Linked DNA regions of Homo sapiens: region 2 is linked to region 1. Evidence: fine-mapped QTL for protein levels in blood plasma. A gene starts in region 1. The other region holds a variant in brackets. All regions are shown on one strand. Distances are between the middles of the regions.

The links. A credible set is the group of variants that fine-mapping cannot tell apart. PIP is the chance, under the fine-mapping model, that this variant and not a neighbour inherited with it causes the effect. Protein levels are from antibody-based Olink assays in UK Biobank. Linkage for the fine-mapping came from a reference panel and not from the study's own genotypes, which makes the PIPs less certain.
Region 2: its variant is the best candidate, but not a certain one, in a credible set for the plasma level of the LBP protein (UK Biobank, PIP 0.88).

What each region holds. Positions count from the first base shown.
Region 1 is chr20:38,337,624-38,347,270 of GRCh38, forward strand. LBP (lipopolysaccharide binding protein) reads left to right here and starts at 8,859. Exons shown (of 15, transcript NM_004139.5): 1 at 8,859-9,017. The coding sequence starts at 8,894. RefSeq lists enhancers at 4,578-5,354, 6,135-6,912.
Region 2 is chr20:39,491,810-39,501,456 of GRCh38, forward strand. No RefSeq gene overlaps it. Among named protein-coding and RNA genes, the nearest start is that of LINC01734, 270 kb to the left of the region's middle. The variant G/T (reference allele first, on the strand shown) is at 4,456.

The sequences.
Region 1 (9,647 bases):
TATAATTAATCTCTGGAATCCCCACAGCCTCCATTAACAGAAAGTCTCATTGTTCCAAATGTCCTTGTGATTTTCTTAGTCCAAATTCCTAATGTCACACAGAGAGGGTCTGGAGAGTGGGTCAGTCCACTATGCTGTTGTTCTTTCCACTACCACATGGTGTGGCTGTTGACCCGTCATTCTGCACAGCCCATTGTCCTGTGTAGTCACCTGTCCACTAGGACTGTTGCTCCCGTCACTACCACACGGTGTCGCTGTTGAAAAGCTAGCCTGCACAGCCCACCTTCCCTGCCCCACACTTGGGCTCCCCGTTTCATCCATGTTCTCCTGCCCAGCCATTGTCCCCAAAAGCAGAACAATGGGCCAGGTGACAGAGTCCATTGGGGTTTTCTGCTTCAGTCACATCTTTGGGTGCAATTAGCACTTCCCCATGACTCTCCCAGCTCTAGTGTGGAAGCCAGATCACCAACCCAGACTGTCTTTGGAATTCTGGGGAGTTTCCTTGGGGGCTTTGGGCCATTTCCTGCCATGGGACATCAGAGGGGGCTATCTCAGCCCATGAGATGGGGTTTTATGGATTGTACTTCAGATTGATTGAGGAGTCCTGGAAGGCCTTTCTACACTGCTGACATGTGCTCTGAGACCATAAGGATGAGCAACAACACACTGGAGGAGTTCGATGCAGACGGTGGAGTGGGGGACCACATGACCAGATTTAGTTTTTAAAATGTTTTATTGTGACTTCTGAAAGCATCAGAAGGACAAGAGGGCAAGGGATGAGCACAAATTAGGAATGTGTTGTTATTCAAGCTTCAACCAGATTGGTGATGGTAAAATTGAAGAGAAGCATTTGTAGCGAGCAAAAGCAGATAAAAGGTATTTATTTTATTTATAAAGAAAAATGTACACACTTCTGCTGACATCATTGATTCTCTGTCAAATGGAGTTAAAGGCTCTAGGGCCACACAAGAAGGGAGGGCCATTGATCAAACACTCTCAGGAGTCAAGCAAAGGGCATGAATGATCTAATTTAATCCTGATAGCATTCTTCATCCCCCAAGATGGCAATTGCTCAAACTTTTTTGGTTGTTTGTTTTTGAGACAGAGTCTTGCTCTGTCACCCAGGCTGGAGTGCAGTGGCACGATCTCAGCTCACTGCAACCTCTGACTCCCAAGTTCAAGCGATTCTCCTGCCTCAGCCTCCTGAGTAGCTGGGACTACAGGCATGTGCCATCATGCCTGGCTAATTTTTGTATTTTTAGTAGAGATGAGGTTTCATCATGTTGGCCGGGCAGGTCTCAAACTCCTGACCTCAGGTCATCTACCTGCCTGGGTCTCCCAAAGCGCTGGGATTACAGGGGTGAGCCACCGAGCCCAGCTGTTCAAACATTTTAAATTGAGTTACCCTTCCCTGATCACATAGCCAGCAGGTGGCAGAGTTGGAATTCCCACCTTATCTATTCCCACATGTCAGAGCCCATGCTTTTTTTGCTCCTCCCCGATGTCAAAATGTTGTCTGTTCTGGGGGACTTGGCACGTTTAAAGCAGAACTTCTTTGTTCTGTGGCATAGGTTGTACACTGTAAAACATAGGTTGTACCAGGTTGAGGAAACAAAAGTCTTTCTCTAATTTGTCCACCAGTAGTATGCATCTTTTTCTCCACTAGCCAGGGGCTATGGAGGCCCTGAATAGAACAGAAGAGCAGCTAGCAAGGGCGGAAGGAAGAGAGAGAAGGGAAGCACAGCGTGGGATAGACTGGGAGGCCATGAGGACTGTTAAGGGCTCTAGGTTTTGTTCCAAAAGATAAGGCAAGCCACTGGAGAGTTTTGAGCAGAAGAATGTTACAATCCAATTCACATTTGTAAAAGAGCCCTCTGGCTGCTGGGGAGACTAGCTGGTAGATATGGACACACACCTGCCATCCCCCACCCTCATTCTCTTTGGAGTTAACCCCCTTCTACACCTGCCCTCTACTTTCTGTAACATATAGGCACCCCCTGCTCCACACTCTATAGAAAAAAAAAAAAAAATGCAATTATTAGGTTGGTGCAAAAGTAATTGCGGTTTTTGCCATTACTTTTAATGCAAAAACCGCAATTACTTTTTTTTTTTGGAGACAGAGTCTCGCTCTGTCACCCAGGCTGGAATGCAGTGGTGTGATCTTGGCTCACTGCAACCTCTGCCTCCCGGATTCAAACCGTTCTCCTGCCTCAGCCTCCCAAGTATCTGGGATTACAGTCTCACACCAGTACGCGCGGCTAATATTTTGTGTACATATATTTTTAAATATAGACAGGGTTTCTCCATGTTGGCCAGAGTGGTCTCCAACTCCTGACCTCAAGTGATCCACCCACCTTGGCCTTCCAAAGTGCTGGGATTACAAGTGTGAGCCACTGAATCCAGTCTTGGCCGTTACTTTTAATGCCAAAAAAAATAATTACTTTTCCATCAACCTAAATCTTTCTTGGACCTGAAGATTGGTGCATGAAACACATTGTGCCTGCGAACTTCTCTCTAATGGCTGAGGAAAGGCAGTTGCTTGGGGGTTAGGGTTTGAGCAGCATTCCCCAACACACTCCAAAGGTTCTGCCAAGTTGGCTACAGAACCACTATTTGAGCAGCTTCTCCCTTCAGGCTAAGCATTGTCTGCTGCAGATGACTGCAAATGTGTGTTTGGGGTTTCTTTGGGTGACGTTGAAAATGTTCTAAAATTAAATTCTGGATTGTACACTTTAAATGGGTGAATTTTATGTATATGAAATATATGTCAATAAAGTGGCAAAAGACAATTGAAGAAGAAAAAAAAGAATTGTTCACTCCAAACTGCCTAAAAGCTCACCATCAGAGCAGCTTCCCTTCTGGGATAAGCACAGCCTTCCTGGGGTTCCTTTTGGAAATGCTGACTTATTAAATAAATATGAGGGAGGAGTACCCTCTGCAAGGAGAGAAGGTGGGGAGGGGCACAGGAAGACTAAGCACTGTCTTCATCATTTTGCCATGTCCCGCTAGTGGCCATGAGCAGCCCTGTCCCTGGGTCTATCTCTTCAGGCTTATGATCCTATTTAATCCTCATGACAACCGCTAAAGGTAGCCAAGGTTGCCCTTGTTTTTCAGATGAGGAGTCTCTAGAAAAGTCGTGTGGCCTGCTAAGCTAACTGTTCAGAGCCTGGGCTCTGGAGTCACCTGGCGGTGGTTTCAAACATAAATCCGGCCCCCTCAAGAGCTGTGTGACTTTGCAAATGTTCCTTAACCTCTCTGGCCCTCTATTTCCTCCTTTGAAAAGGAGAGTTAAAATCTTGCCCTCTCGGCATGAGGTTATTGGGAAGAATCAGAGGTATGATTGATAGGGTCATGGCACAGTGGTTAAGAGTATGAACCATGATCCCAGATATCTTGGGTTTAAATCCCACGTCTGCTATTTACCAGCTGTGTGACTTTGGGCAGTATACTTAATTCTCAGGTTTTCTATTTCTCATCTATAAAGGGAACATCATTATAGTACCTACCTCATAAAGTTGTTATGAGAATCAAATACATGTCAAATCCGTGGTACAGGGGTTGACAACAGTAATCCAAGTTTGCTCTAATTTGAATAAACGCAGTTCTTCTTACTATACTGTAAAGACTATATCTGACCAGGTGCAGTGGCTCACGACCTGTAATCCCAGCACTTTGGAAGTCTGAGGCAGGTGGATCACTTGAGCCCAGGAGTTCGAGACCAGCCTGGGCAACATGGCGAAACCCAGTCTCCACTAAAAACACAAAAATTAGCCGGGCGTGGTGGCACACACCTGTAGTCCCAGCTACTCAGGAGGCTGACGCACGAGTATCATTTGAACCCAGAAGGCGGAGGTTGCAGTGTGCTGAGATCACACCACTGCACTCCATCCAGCCTGGGTGATGGAGTGAGACTCTGTCTCAAAAAAAAAAAAACAAAAAAAATACTATATCTGGCTACAGTAGTATTCCCAATGCCTGCCACATAGTTGGTGATCAGTAAGTATTTATTTTAAAAATGATCTGGGATTTCAACCCACATCTGCATAACTCAAAACATTTATGCCAGTGATTCTCAATGTATGATCCAGGGCTGTCTGCCTGAATGGGCCTGACCCCAAGAATCAGAGCCCCTGGCTGGCCAGAACTCTGGATTTATCCTCTCCAGTTCAGCAATAGGCTCACAGTGTAACCTGGGCCAGTTCTCCCTCTCTAGGTCTCAGTTTCCCCATCTGTAAAAGTAAGGGCTCTCTGGGGTGAGGAGCTGTTTATCCACATGACCAGCCCTGCTCCATGGGGGCTCCTGGTATCTCAAGACACGCAACCTTCAAGCCACAAAGGATCGTCACTGACGTTACTACTTTTATTTTGTAAGCCCGCATGTCTCAGGGCTCATGTGTGTGTGTCTGTGCGTGTGCGTACACAGGCACACATTCAGATCTGCAGGTGATGTGGCTTGGGGAGAGGCTGCCATAAATATTAAACTCCCAACTCCAAAGTACCCTGCAGAGATTCAGAACTGCAGGAATTCATAACATCATTCTCTTTCAAGAGTCAGTGTTCTCAGGAGTGTGGGCACCGTCATAGAAAACTATCGAAAAGGAGAGTGAAGCATTAGAGAACTGCTGAGCTTGGAGGGAACTCGGAGCTCATTTAGTCCCTTGTTCCCGAAGCTCCAAGCACAATCCGTGGTCAGCAGCATCACCCTCACCAGGGAGCTTGTTAAAATGCAGAGGCTCAGCCCCAAGAGGAACATGATGGATCAAGATTTGCATCTAAACAAGATCCCTGGGGGACTTGACTGCACGTCTTTGTTTCTGAAAAGCTGTCCTAGTCCCCAGCCCTCATCTGCATTTGGGGGAAACATGAGGAACAGAGAGGGGTGGAGTTTGTTCCAGGTCCCCCAGCCCATTAGGAGCAGGGCCTTGACAAAAAACCTGTAAGACTTTGGAAAAGGATTCAAAGCTCTCTGCGAGAGGCAGGCGTTTGCACAAAAGATGAATAAGTGCAGAAGAAATGCTCAGTGTTGCTAATTGTGTCCAACAGGGTTCAGGCAAGAAAAGAGAATCCAACTGCATTGGTTCTTGGGATTTGAATAAAGTGGCTATTTCTAGAGTTGGGGGACAAGCTTGAGGAAACCAACCAGGGACTGTTTTTCCTAAGGCTCAAGCAGCAAAGAAAAGCATCTGGGTATCCCAGCCCAAGGAGATAATAGGAGCCAAGGACAAGGCCTTATCAGGAGGGACACAGCCAACTGCCACACTTGTGATCTAGAGAAGACAGCAGGGAAAAGTGCCCTGACATCTGACCTCCTGCCATGCCACCCTCTGGCTGAACCCAAGTAGAGATGAGGAAACTGAGTCACAAAGTGCCCAAAGTCACCCCGTGGGGGAGTCAGGATTCAAATCCAGGCCATCTGGCCCCAGAGTCCATAAAGATAAACATAAGGTTTGTTTATTCCTTTGGCAATTATCTACTATTTGCTGCTCAGTATTCTAGACACTATGGATTCCAAATTCTGGGTTTTTCAAAATCTTTTCAGTAACACTTTTGTAGTGAGAATATTATCGGTGGCGAGTCCGCAACACTCCCAGCCCTTGTCTTCTCAGAGGAAAGAATTCAATTGAGAGACGCAGGCAAGTTTTAAAGCAGAGGCAAAGGTTTATTGAAAGAAGCAAAGTACAACTGAGAGATCAAGTGCCCCGCTCAACCTTTGGCTCGGGGCTTTTATACACTGGCTTGGTTCTGGGGTTTCTTCTCCTCCTTGATTCCTCCCTTCGGTGGGCTGCTGCGCCCTCCCTGCATGCGCAATGGCCTGCCAGCACTTGGGAGGGGCCGCATGCGCAGTGTGTTTACTAAGGTTGTGCGCATGCTCACTTGGGGTGATTTTCCCTTACTGGTCCGTCGCCGCAAGAAAAAGGTCATATACAAGTCAGACTCCAACATTTGCCCTTCTGCTCGACCTTACCAGGGAATTGTGGTTTGCTGGCTCCAGATGATGTCAACTATCTGTTAGGGAACTCCTCTCCCTCTTGGCGCCATTCGTGGCCACTTATCATGTCAGAGGGACAGTTTTATGATCGCCTGTCCATCATTTGATGCACTGCCATTTCTGGGGGCCCTCTCCTGCACAAGAACACAATAAACAGCCTTGTTAAAAGAGTCCCTATTTCACTGCAATAAGACTGAGTGGTGGCCAGAGTGGTAGCAGCTGTTGCTTTTGTGGAATTGGATGGACAGCCTGGTAGGAGAAAGGCCCAGGGGTTCTGACCAGCAGTGGGGTCGTGCTGCTCCCTGAGGCCTCTGCTGGGTCCTGGGCCATCAGCAGGGACCTTAGCCAGCAGTGGGCACCTGCAGGGGTGGAGGCCAGGCCTGGGCCATGTGGCAGCTCTAAGGTCCAAAGATTGCTGCTGTGGGAAATTCCCACCCCTGCAAATGACTCCCAGCCAGGGACATCCTTAAACTGCTGCCAGAGGAAGAGTGACATCTATGTCCCCATAAGATCCTTATGCTCCAGAATGTCCTCCCCCACTCTCCTCCCCTCCTGGGCAGGCTGAGGTCCAGGAAGCAAAGGCCCCTAGGCACACTGGGGATGCACCTGTGAGCCCTTTCCTGCTCCAAAGCCTCCCAAAGGCTGGCTCCTTACCCTGAGGCCTCTGCTCAGCTTGTTGCCTCCCAAGAGAACCCTGCCCTGACCAGAGTTTTGGAATGGCATCCTGCAGACCTGGACTTAAATTCCTGCTGGGTGACTGCAGCCTACATCACTTCACCCTGCCAAACCTCAGTTTCTTCATCTCAAGACAAGACTAAAATATCCACCTGGGGTTGCTGATGCAAGGATGAGAGGAGACGTGCAGCTTAACCAGCACAGCGCCTGCACATAGTAGGTGCTCAATAAATATCAGTTTCTTTCCAATTTCTGCTGGGTGCTGCAAGGATCTCAGGAAATGGAAGACTCAGCCGTGCCTGCAAGGAGCCATCAGACTGGTGGTGTGGGGACTGAGGGGAGGGACGGATGAGGATCCCAACAAACCTCAGCCCCAGTGACAGGAGCAACACGGTACAGAGGAGCAGAGAGGCCTGGACTGTGGGGTTCCCTGTGCTTAACGTGGGACATTCTGATCTTAACCTCAGTGCCTGCCAGTGCTGTTTGTGACCTATTGGGAGTCACCCTGTTAATCCCACCACATTCAGTTGGTTGAGGCCATCATGAAAACCTGCCCAATTTCAAGGGAAGGGGGCAGAAACATTACCTTTTGATGGAAGGAATATCAAAGAATTCGTGGGCATATTTTTAAAGGACCACAATTATCAAAAAGCAGAGTGGTTAATGCTGTGGTGGGGAAAGCGCAAAGGGTTCTGGGACCTCAGAGGGGACCCTTTCTAGAATCCAGAGAAGCATGGGAGTGGTCAGGGAAGGCTTCCTGGGGGTGAGGGCAAAGCAGAACTCACAAATGTAAGCAGGGCTGGGGCAAAACTCTAAAAATTAAACACAGTCTGTACTATAAATTTTGTTTTCCAGAATGAAATTTTACTATCTTTACTTACTGCGAATATATGCCCGGGACCATACCCCCAAGAAAATAAAAATTTTAGAGGCTGGGCATGGTGGCCCAAGTCTATAATCCCAGTATTTTGGAAGGCCAAGCGGGAGGCTTACTTGAGCTCAGGAGTTCGACACCAGCCTGGGCAACATAGCAAGACCTCGTCCCTACTAAAATACAAAAAATTAGCTGGACATGGTGGCTCACACCTGTAGTCCCAGCTACTTAGGGGGCTGTGGTGGGAGGATCACTTGAGCCCAGGAAGTTGAGGTTGCAGCGAGCGATGTTCATGCCACTGGACTCCTGCTTGAGCAACAGAGTAGACTTTGTCTCAAAAAATGAAAAAAGAAAAAAAAATTGTACGTATCAACAAGCAAAAACTTTTTTAACACTTATAATTCTACCCCCACAACCAGAGACAATGCCTCATGACTCCTTGCTAAATATTTTCCAGATTGTTGAACATAGAAGCCTATTTTGAACCCCCCAAAATAGAACCTTACTCTATGGTGCCATCGGAAACGGATGCCTCATGACATCCCTTTCCTTGCCAAGAAATACCTTTATTTCTGCAGCCTCACTTTAAGGGGCATGTCATAATTCATTTAACCAATGCCCTTCTGGTGGATACATGAGGTTGGGTCTCACTTCTCCTGTCCTGTTTCCCACAGCATAGCAGTGGTATCTTGGAGCAGTGATTTACTGGCACACTGACTCAATTATGTATTTAAGGGCAAGTCCCTGAAATTGAATTCCTGGGTCACAGGGCATGCAACTGTTTAAACATTTGCCAATTGCCTTCCAGAAAATTTCACCACCAGCAAGGTTTGAGAAACACTGTTTTCCCATTGGGGGAAACATTTATTTTTTAAATAAACGAGCCAATATATTTTAAAAAAGAGAGTTTGGTTGGTGCCAGATGTAGCTTCACTCTCAACCCTGCCCTCTGCTGGGGGTGAGATCTCAAGGGAGCTATGTGGCTTTTTTGAACCTCAGTTTCCTCATCTGCTAAACCAGGCCTTCCTAGCCGAGCTCTTAAGAGACTGGCTGAGATGAGGCAAGATGAACAGTGATGAATATGGGGTCTTTCTGTGGGGAGGGTGGACAGGGATGATCATAGGAGTCAGGCTTCCTCATCCACTGATCTGGGCAGTGAAAACTGGCTTCTAAGTATGACCTTATGACTTCAGTGATGTCGCAAGCAGGTTCCAGTCCCTGTGCCTCCCCTTCCCGCTCCCAGGAACCCATCCAGCCTCAGGAACTGCCCCCAGCCATCGAGCCTTGGCTACTTAAGGGACCTGGGCCCAATCCACAGCTGGGACAGTCCTGGCCCACTGCACTGGGAATCTAGGATGGGGGCCTTGGCCAGAGCCCTGCCGTCCATACTGCTGGCATTGCTGCTTACGTCCACCCCAGAGGCTCTGGGTGCCAACCCCGGCTTGGTCGCCAGGATCACCGACAAGGGACTGCAGTATGGTAAGAAGCCACATCTGCTGGCTGGACTTGGCAAACCCACGCTCCAGGCTGCTCTGGGTACAGTGGGGACAGGGAGTGGGGACACAGACCGGACCCTCTCCCTGGGGCAGTGCCACCTTCTGGGTCAGGTGGCTCTGGCTCCTATTCTGGCCTTACTGCCCACCAGCTGAGTGCCCTGGGCATGTTATTTGTGGTAGTGAGGTCCTCCACCAGCCAACAGAACACAGCTTTGCGTGCAAGTAGTTGATTTGGGAAATGATTCCAGGAAACACTGTAGGGAATCGGTACTGAGATGAGGAAGGGAGGGCAGCCAGGAGAGAGTGTGCAATTAAACCAGCCACCACCTCTGATGATGGGAACCACTCAGCTGGGAAAATTCTGCGTAAAGTTTGGAAACACATGCCTCTGAACTGGAAGTCAGAATTGTGGTCACCTCTAGAGGCAGGCAGAGACCCTGAAGGGCATGAGGGAGGTCTGCCGGGGTGCTGGAAGTTGCCATATCTTGATCCAGGTGGTGATCACATTCCTGTATAAACATTAAAAATTATTTAGCAATACCTTTAAAATTTGTGCCCGTTAGGTACTTTATGTATATTATTCCTCAATTTTAAAGAATGGGCAGGCCAGGCA
Region 2 (9,647 bases), 1.2 Mb after region 1:
TTTCCTTTTACAGTGTCTGGTGTCCTGATGTGCTTCTTGGCTTATTTTAGCTTATCTCCAATCTCTGTCTCTACATGCTGCTCTCCCAGTGTGGTGTCTGTGTCTGTGTCCAAACTTCCATCGTCTTATAAGGACATCAGTCATATTGCACTAAGGACCACCCTAATTACTTCATTTCAACTTGATTAAATCTGCAAAGAACTTGTTTCCAAATAAGGTGATGTCACAGTCACAGGTACTAGGAATTGAACTTGAACATATCTTTTTTGCTGGGGGAGTTGGGGGTGGGGGGGACTTACAGTCCAACCCATAATAACAAGTGACATGGGAAGCTTTTAAAGAGTTAGGCAACACTGTTGCCCAACTTAAAAATATAACTCCTTTGATGCCTGGTGAGAAATGGAGTGAAGGGTCAGATGGAACCTGGAGCCTAGTCTTCCCGATGTGGGATGTGTTGGCATCTGAGCCTGAGATAAAAGGGTGCATACGCATGTGTTTTGGCATGAGCACACACGGGTAGCCATCACATTCTAAAGGCAATTTCCATTCTGCACCCTCTGTGATGCCTTGCAAGGCATGCCTTTTCTTTGTGCTTTCATAGCCTTTGGCTTATACTTTTATTTGGCCTGTGTTTAGTTTTACCCTGTTTTAGAATTATATGTGTAGCAGGACTGTCAGGAGTGAAGACATGTCTTTTGTAGGAGGGCTTTTGTCTAAATAAGAAAGAGGAAAATGCTTGCACACACAGCTGTATTGAAGAGGGATTGAATAGTTTAGCGATTTCACAGAGAGTGACTCCCTGGGTCAGGCCCATGGATTCATTTCTGAGCATTGTGGAGAACGGGGAAAGAAGGGACTCAGGTTAAAGAGCAGAAAGAGCCGCAGTTCCATAGAAACCAGGGCACAGTCCTGGTGGTGTAGGGCTCAGGGAACACTGTTACTCAGAGGGGAAGAGAGAGGCATTCATCCCTGCTGTCAGCTGAATGTATGTGTCCCATCAAAATTCATATGTGGAGACTTAATCCCTAATGTGATGGAGTTAGGAGGTGATTAGGTAATGAAGGTGGAACCCTCTTGAATGGGATTAGTGCCCTTATAAAAGAGATCCCAGAGAGCTCATTTGCTCTTCTACCATGTGAGAACACAGTGAGAAGAGACAATCTATGAACCAGGAGGCATGTTCTTACAAAACACGGAATCTGCAAGTGCCTTGATCTGGGAGTTCCTAGCCTCTAGAATTGTAAGAAATAAATTTCTCTTGTTCATAAGCACCCCAGTGTATGGTGTTCTATTATAACAGCCCAAACAGACTAAGACAGTCCTCCTCTTGCTTATAGAATAGCTTGGCTGTAAGGACATCTAAGACTTCTCGGATGCATTGGTATCATGTGTTTGTGGTTTTGGGATCTTCAGAAGTCAAATGTCTAATCGATTCCAGCACTCTTTGAGTGGACGGTGGCCAGCGTGATTGTGGCAAGATGGTACCCTCATGCAAAATCATGAGATTCTGAAGTGCCATCAGCACAAAAGAATGGGAGAAATCAGCTTGTGAAATCATTCAAGAACCTCATGCATACCTGGAGAAAGATCTGGGAAAGTCTAGTGGAAGCTTGCTGTTTCCCATGTCTAGTACATGAACCTCTTCTGATGTTGGAGAAATTGCCCACTGTATGAGACTTCAGGAAAGGCCCTGCCTACCTCTGACCACAGAGCCACAAAGCAAGGCACAGGTACCCACTGTCCCTTCTTTCTTTGAGGTTAGTCCCTATGGTTGTATCATCTATGCTCAGCCAATCAGAAATACTGCTCCAGGACTTTGGAAGCTATAGAAGCAAAGAAGCAGTGACAGTGGAGAAACTCCTTCAGAGTGGGTGATGATAGCAAGGGCGGTGGCAGAAACACCCATTCCCATGAGCAGCGGTGGTAGTACCATGGGCCTTCATGTTTGGTACAGATGGAGTATGGCTGTGTGATGAACTGAAAAATGGGCCTCCAAAGATTGTGGCTGTTTCCTTATATGGTAAAATATCTGATAAAGTGAAGGATCTTGAGAGGAGGAGTTTATCCTACATTATCCATGTGGCCCCTAAATGCAATCTCATGCTTCCTTGTAAGAGACAGGCAGAGGGTGTTTTGAGAGAGATAGACAGAGGAGAAGGCAATGTGGCCAGGAGGCAGGATATGGCCACAAGCCAAAGAAGGCCTGGAGCCACCAGAAGTTGGAAGAGGCCAGGGAAGAATTCTTCCCTAAAACATTTGGAGAGAATATGGCTCTGCAACACACCCCAATTTTGAATTTCTGGCCTCCAGAACTATGAGAGAATACATTTCTGTTTTTGATCCACAGAGTTTGTGATAATTTGTTAAATCAGGTACAAAAAACAAATATATCTTCCTGTTTGTTTTCTGGGCCAGGTGATCCCAAATTCCTAGCAATTCTCTGAGCCATCCTTTCAACAAATTTTCTTTTCTGCCTAAATCAGAGGCAGTTTCTGTTGCTTGTCATTAAGAGCTGGGATTGCTAGAGTCAATCTTTCTTGGGAGGAGGGGATGACAATGTTCAGAGACAAAAAAAAAAATGCTGCCCCAGAACATAATCTACTTTGTACCCATTTTCTGCTGAGCCCTAGAGAAAACCAGCTTACAATGGCCATAATATTTCTGCCTCCTTCATCAGCCACTGCTGGTGCCACTCCTTCATCAGTCTATGTACATCATCCCAGGGAGATCAAAAGTACAGAACATTGGTTAACCTTAGCCTTCAGTAAGGATGTTAATTTTCTCAGATATGGGAGAGAAATAAGGAAGGGGAGAGATTTTGATGGGGAGAACACATTGAAGGTACTAACCCCATCTGGTGTAAGTCTTCTCAGAATGCTGAGCAGCTCCTTAGAATGTGAGTGTTGCAGGTTTGGGACCAAGATGGTGTGAATGAGTGGCTCACACACACCCTTTCTTACCCATGCCTGTGGCAGATACGACTAATCAATTCTTGTACTCTTTTTCTCACAATCCTTCTAAAACAGTGATCTGAATAGCTGTTCTCAATTGTTTGGATGTAGAATAGGATATAAAATCTATTGGCATTTTTAGTTTGTAGGCTTGAGGAAAGGAGAGACAGATAGCACAGAGTAAGCAACGGGAGCTGAATGCAGGAATGACTTAGCATCTGTGAAGGCCTGAGAGGAACATCAGGACATTGCAGTGAATCTAGTAGGTGTATAGTTATAACTTTCTCCTGCAGGTCTGTTGGGCCAAATATTGAGTCCGAGCATGGTCAATGGGTTTTGTTAAGAGGGGAAGGTAGAAGGACTAGAAGGTAAGGAGACACTTACAGTGCTCTTGATATGGTTCACCAGGAGTCTCCTGGACTTTCATGAAGTGGATGGAGAATGAGAGCACTTTAATATAGGTTTAATGATGCAATAATGAGAAAGCGTGCAGGGTCAATGGAGGCAAAATGATAAAAGGTAGAGTGCAGAAGGAAGTAACAGCCAGAACATGGGATTTCAAAACGTGCTATCAGAGGTGAAGTAGTTCTGAGGGATGGTTGCATATAGTCATGGCCCTGTGGAGGATGACTGGTGTGGGGTGGGGAATGGAAGATGTTGAACTTAGGAGATCAAGGGAATGCAAGTTCAATTTGCTGCATGGGTTTGCAAAGTGGACACTGAGATGAAGAGGATTTGTGTCAAAGAGGAAACCAATCACCAAAATATAAAAGAAACTCAAACAACTCAACAACAGTAACAACAAAACCCCAAATATCCTATTAAAAAGTGGGCAAAGAACATTTTTCAAAAGAAGATATGTAAACAATCAACAGACATATGAAAAAATGCTCAACATCACTAATCATCAGAAAAATGCAAATTGAAACCATAATGATGTATCATCCTACTCCAGAATGGCTATTATTAAAAAGATTTAAAAAGAAATGTTAGCAAGGATGTGCGGAAAAGGGAACTCTTATATACTGTTGGTGGGAATGTAAATTAGTGCAGCCTCTAAGGAAAACAGTATGGAGATTTCTCAAAAAACTAAAAGAGGACTACCATTGATCCAGCAATTCCACTCCTGGGTATCTACCCAAGGAAAATAAATCAATATATCAAAAAGGTACCTGTACTTGTATGTTTATCATAGCACTATTCACAATAGCAAAGATATGGAATCAAACTAAGTGTCCATCAACAGACAGATGGATTAAAAAATGTGGTAAATATACATAACAGAATACTAGTCAGCCATAAAAAAGAATAAAATCATCTTTTGCCACAACATGGATGGAACTGGTGGTCATTATCTTAAGTGAAGCAACCCAGGCCCATAAAGAAAAATATTACATGTTCTCAGTTTTCACTGGTTATTAAAAAATCTGTTCACATGACCATAGAGGTGGAATGATAGGTAACAGAGACTTGGAAGGGTGAGGGGGTGTGAAGGGAGAGGATG[G/T]TGAGAAATTACTTAATAGTATAATGTACATTATTTGAGTGATAGATACCACAAAAGTCCTGAGTTGGTTGCTATGCAGCCTATACATGTAGCAAAATCACACAGGTACCTCATAAATTTAAACACATTTATAGATATTTCAAAAAAACTACAGTTTTTATTCAAAATTCAGCATTGAATATTAAAACAAAGAATATGGCTAGGCGCAGTGGCTCAGGCCTGTAATCCCAGCACTTTGAGAGGCTGAGGTGGGTGGATCACCTGAGGTCAGGAGTTTGAGTCCTTCCAGTCTGGCCAACATGGTGAAACCCCATCTCTACAAAAATACAAAAATTAGCCAGGCATGGTGGCTCACACCTATAATCCCAGCTACTCGGGAGACTGAGGCACGAGAATTACTTGAACCTGGGAGGCAGAGGCTGCAGTGAGCTGAGATCGTTCCACTGCACGCTAGCCTGGGCGACAGAGTGAGACTTCGTCAAAAAAAAAAAAAAACAAACAAAAAAAACAAAACCCCAAAAGCAAACAAAACAAAACAAATAATATATAGTTTGAATACTTCTATGAGTATCAGTTTTTTATTCCTTGATTTTTCTTGGCCACGTTTATGATGATAAAGTATAACCGAGGTGTCAATATGCGTTGTGTTTTGTTTTCATTGAATTCTCCCCTCCTCCAGCTCTAAGAAGAAGGTAACCAGAACTCTGTATGCTTTGATTCTCTTTGTTGTTGGATAAGATGGGAAGATGCCTGGAAGTACTCTCCCAACCCATTCCCCATTCCATGTCAAAAACACATGCACTTGGTGTTTACGACTTCTGTTTCACAAACTATAACTCTTTGATGTGATTGTGCCAGGGAGAGGAGAAAAGGGAGCATTAGTGAGGGTCCCAACAGAAAACAGCACACGCACATGGGCTAGCTGAATGCATTTAATGAGGGAGCAATTTACAAAATTGTGGGAAAGGTTAAAAGAAACAAAGAATGGTGCAGCACTCCATGGCTAGGAACAGAGAGGAGCCTTTACCAGCTCTAGATCTGCAAGGTACGGAAGTGATTACTAAAACCAGAACCAGCCACCAGATAAGAGCTGTGGCCCCTGGTAGAGGGAGAAGCCCAATCTGTGATGACCGGACAGGAGAGAATCTGAGGAAATAAAACACCTACTTCACTCTATTCCTACCTTCCAATATGGCACCTTCCATTGGCTGAACTCGTAACCCCATTAACCAAACCCAAATCAAGGCCAGGAGGCAAGAGAGTTGGTTGATGTGGAACTTAAAGGTTAGTCTCCAAATACTGAGTAGGTGGTATGCGTAGCTCTGGAGGGGAAATGGAAAATATCTAGCTTAGGGGGTGAGTACCTTTTTGGGGTGGGAAGGAGACAAAAAAGGAATAAATTTCCCAAGACAGAGCAGCATAGTGGTTTTGGGCTTCAGGACCAGATTTAGCGGGATTATGTGCCTCAGCCCCTATTGTACCCAGGGGTGGGACAGGGTTTCACAGAGCACCCAGAGGCTGTATTCTCAGTGCCAGGTGTCCCAGCCTCAGACAACAGAACAGAAACATAGAACAAACCCAAAGCCAAGAGAGCTCCTGCAGGAGATTCTGTGTTGCAAAAACAATTAATTTATCTTTAGAGGAGAAAGACTCTATAATGTGTAAGGTCAAATTTCCCACATTCTCGCAGGATTGGGGTTAAGAATTAGAATGAATTTGCATTTAGAAAAACCAAGTAACTGTATTTCCTGCATGCTTAGGATCTGAGAGTGAAATTTGTATTGATTATGCTAATAAATGAATTCAAGTATAATAAAAAAGTCTTAACAGATAATTCAGACTAATCCAAGTGCTCCTTCATGTCTGAACCTCTCCAATGCCTCAGATATGTGTGAGTGAAAGAGGGTGCAGGCTTGGGTGCCCCTCCTAAGTCGGAATGGGCCTAAAAGCAGCAGAGTTCTTTCAGAATCTTACAGGACAATGAGACAACAAGTTATTTGGTGAGGAAAGGGTCAACACTGGTCTCAGATTCATCCAGAAATCAGACTACTCCAGATAGAGGCTCTGCCATCAAGCTGGTATTTTTGGTTAATCACCTGACACGCTCTTGATTCTGTCTTTCCCTGGTTTGAGCAGCGGCATCAACAGCCTCAAGACCTTGAAGTCAAATTGTGCCATTGGCTAAAAGTTTTGCAGAGCTCCACTGTGTTGTGGAGAGCTCACTGTCATCCCCTCCAGCTGGCAGCCCATTGTATGCCTCATGGAATGGCTTAGGTGTCACATACTGAGATGTGAGTGTCATTTAAGGATGCGAGGAGAGAAGGCTTGAATGTGCACAGAGACAGCCAAGAGGATAGCATTAGGGTGGGAAGAACTGGGCTTTGAATCAGAGTATGTGGGTGCAAGTCCATGCTCCAGTGCTCACCAGCTGTGTGACACTGGACGTATCACTTAAGCTTTCTGAGCCTCTACATCTATGAGAGATAGGTTATGGGACTTGTTCAAATGTACACAGATGGAAAGTGCAGCAATCCAAATTCTAACTTTGATCTGTCCAATTTATTATTCGTTCATCGAAAAATGTTTACTGAACAAGTCATTGTGCCAGATATGGGGAATATCTCCTGTCATTGAGCCATCAAGGAAGAAAGAGCTTAAACAAATAATAATGAGTGTGGTTAGTGCTATAGAGAAGCAGAGGGTCTATTAGAAGAATATAAAAGGAAGAACAGTAAATGGGGTAAAAAATGGTATAATTTATATTCTAGTAGAACACTCACTATTACAGCTATTATTATCTAAGATGCAGAAACATTTTATGCACAAATCTATTAGTTATAATATTATTCATAATAACAGGAAGTTGGAAACAACCTAAGTGTCCAACCATAGGGGACCAGTTAAATAAATTGTGCCAAATTGTTGTGTTATATAATAGAGTCACTTAAAATGATGCTTATTATAGTTTATGATGTTATGGGGGAAACATACCGTAAATGTGTGAAAAATACAGAGCATGAGGTTGTTTATACTGTATAATCTCATATATACTTGAGGAAAGAGCCTATGTATGTAATATATGTAAACTATATAATTCACATGTATTTGGGTGAAGAGTATGTGAAGGAAGAACCTAGATCATTCTGAGTAGTGGTGGAAATTATAAACAATTATTTTTATTTATTTTTTCATACATTTCATAAATTCCCTAGCGAACCAAAGGAAAATAATAAATAAAACCTCATGCAGCACTAATGTATTTGTTGAATACCTGCTCTAATGTCACAAGAATTTATGTGGCCCTTAGGAATACAGGAGATCATAAGGTATGTCAAGGATTCACCTAGGAGGAGCCCATATGCTTGCTGGGATACACAAAATAAACATATGCTGCAATAGAAAACAAGATGATGCTAAATAATAATAATTCAGGCAATTCACTGAGTGTTAGCATAACAGCAACTTGCCTTAAATGAGCATGTACTCTACCCGAGATACTGTTGTAAATACTTTCCACATGTCATCACCTTGCATGATGGGAACACACATTACTCCATTTTATGGATGTCATAATTGAGACTGAGAGAGTTACTTAGTAACTTTGCTAAGGTCACACAACTAATAAGTGATGAAGTCAGATTCCAACCCTTGCTTTTTTAATATTAAGGCTGGGCTCCTCATCATTATGCTGCAATGCCTATGAACAGCTTTCTAGGGAAGAGAAAAGTTGAAGTTGGCCTTAAAGAATGGTAGGATTTATAGAGACACAGGAACCACAGCAGGGAATGGAACATGGGGGACACATAATTTGATATTTTCTGAATACTTATTGGGTTCTTCTCTGAGCTAGACGTGGGGAGAATTGGGTGGCCTCAGCCCTGCTCACTGGGCACATTCATTCAATGCATGCTTGCTGAGCTCCTGCTGTATGCCCCCACACGATGTGCAAGGAGAACCATGGCCCCCACTCTTACGAAAAATGCAGGCTAGTGGCAGGTACTGACACTAAACATAAAGCAAAAACAATCTGTGAAGAAAAATAAAGCTCCAATTAAGAAAAGTGAAATGTCTATAAAAGAGTCAAAAGCAGATACGTGTGTCAAGGATGAACAGAAAGGCTGGGAGCTGGCTCTGGGATCTGAATTAAAAATGATTCTCAGCTTGGCTAAGGATATTTGGGGTCCATTCACAGGCAATTCTCAGAATAATAATTGTTAATAGGGACTGGAACTTAAAACTTATCTCATCAGGATATTGGCTTGACTTCATCTGAATCTCAGTTACCTAGTCTTTACAATGGGGATTATAATATCTAGGTTGCAGAGTTGTTGCGTGAATGAAAAGGATATGGCACATAAAGAGTTGACCACAATGCCTGCAGAAGGAAAGGAGCCAAAGCCATTGTTATTGCTTTAGGGGGCAAAGAGCAAAAAGATGGAGGTATTGTGACTTCAAAATCTAACTTTTCTTATATGAACATGAATTCTTTTCCATTGGTCTTTGGGTCCTACTGGAATGATATATGATGGATCCATTCTTTCACAGCCTATGCTCTGGGAAGTGCATATCCATTGAGAAGGATTTGTGCTGGTAACTGTTTTCTCTTTTTCCTCTTCTTCTTCCTCCACATCCTCTCCCTTATGTTATTATTATGTTTGCAAAGCTTTATCCCCTTCATATACTCTCTGTCCTTCTCTGTACCTTATAAAGTCAACCTCCATAGATCCCATCAACTGGCTCCCTTGCTATTGTCTCCAAATTGGGATTGGCCCGTGGGAGCTTCCAGCTGGTGATTGGAAGGAAGGAGTAGGGAGAGGTCAGAGTGTTTCTTCCCCACTCCCCCTTGGTGTCCTGTTTCTGGCAATAGCTTCCTCCCATTGTGACTACAGCTCTCACCTGTAGGACCCTTCTCCAATAATACATACTCCGATTATTCTTGCAGCCTAGGGATGGTAATAACTTTGCATTGCAAATCCTGAGTACCCCTTGCTTATTCCCTTAACTTTGGCCCCTGAACCTCCTATATTCTGGTGATGCTGAGGATCTCACCTGAGAGTGCTGCTCCAGGTTTGCCTGATGGTGGGCGTGGGCAGTGGGAGAGAAATCACAGCATTGACGGTCTTCTCTTCTCCAACTCAGCACCCTGAATCGAGTTCTGGTCTTGAGTGCTAATTGGTCTGCTCTCCTGCTGA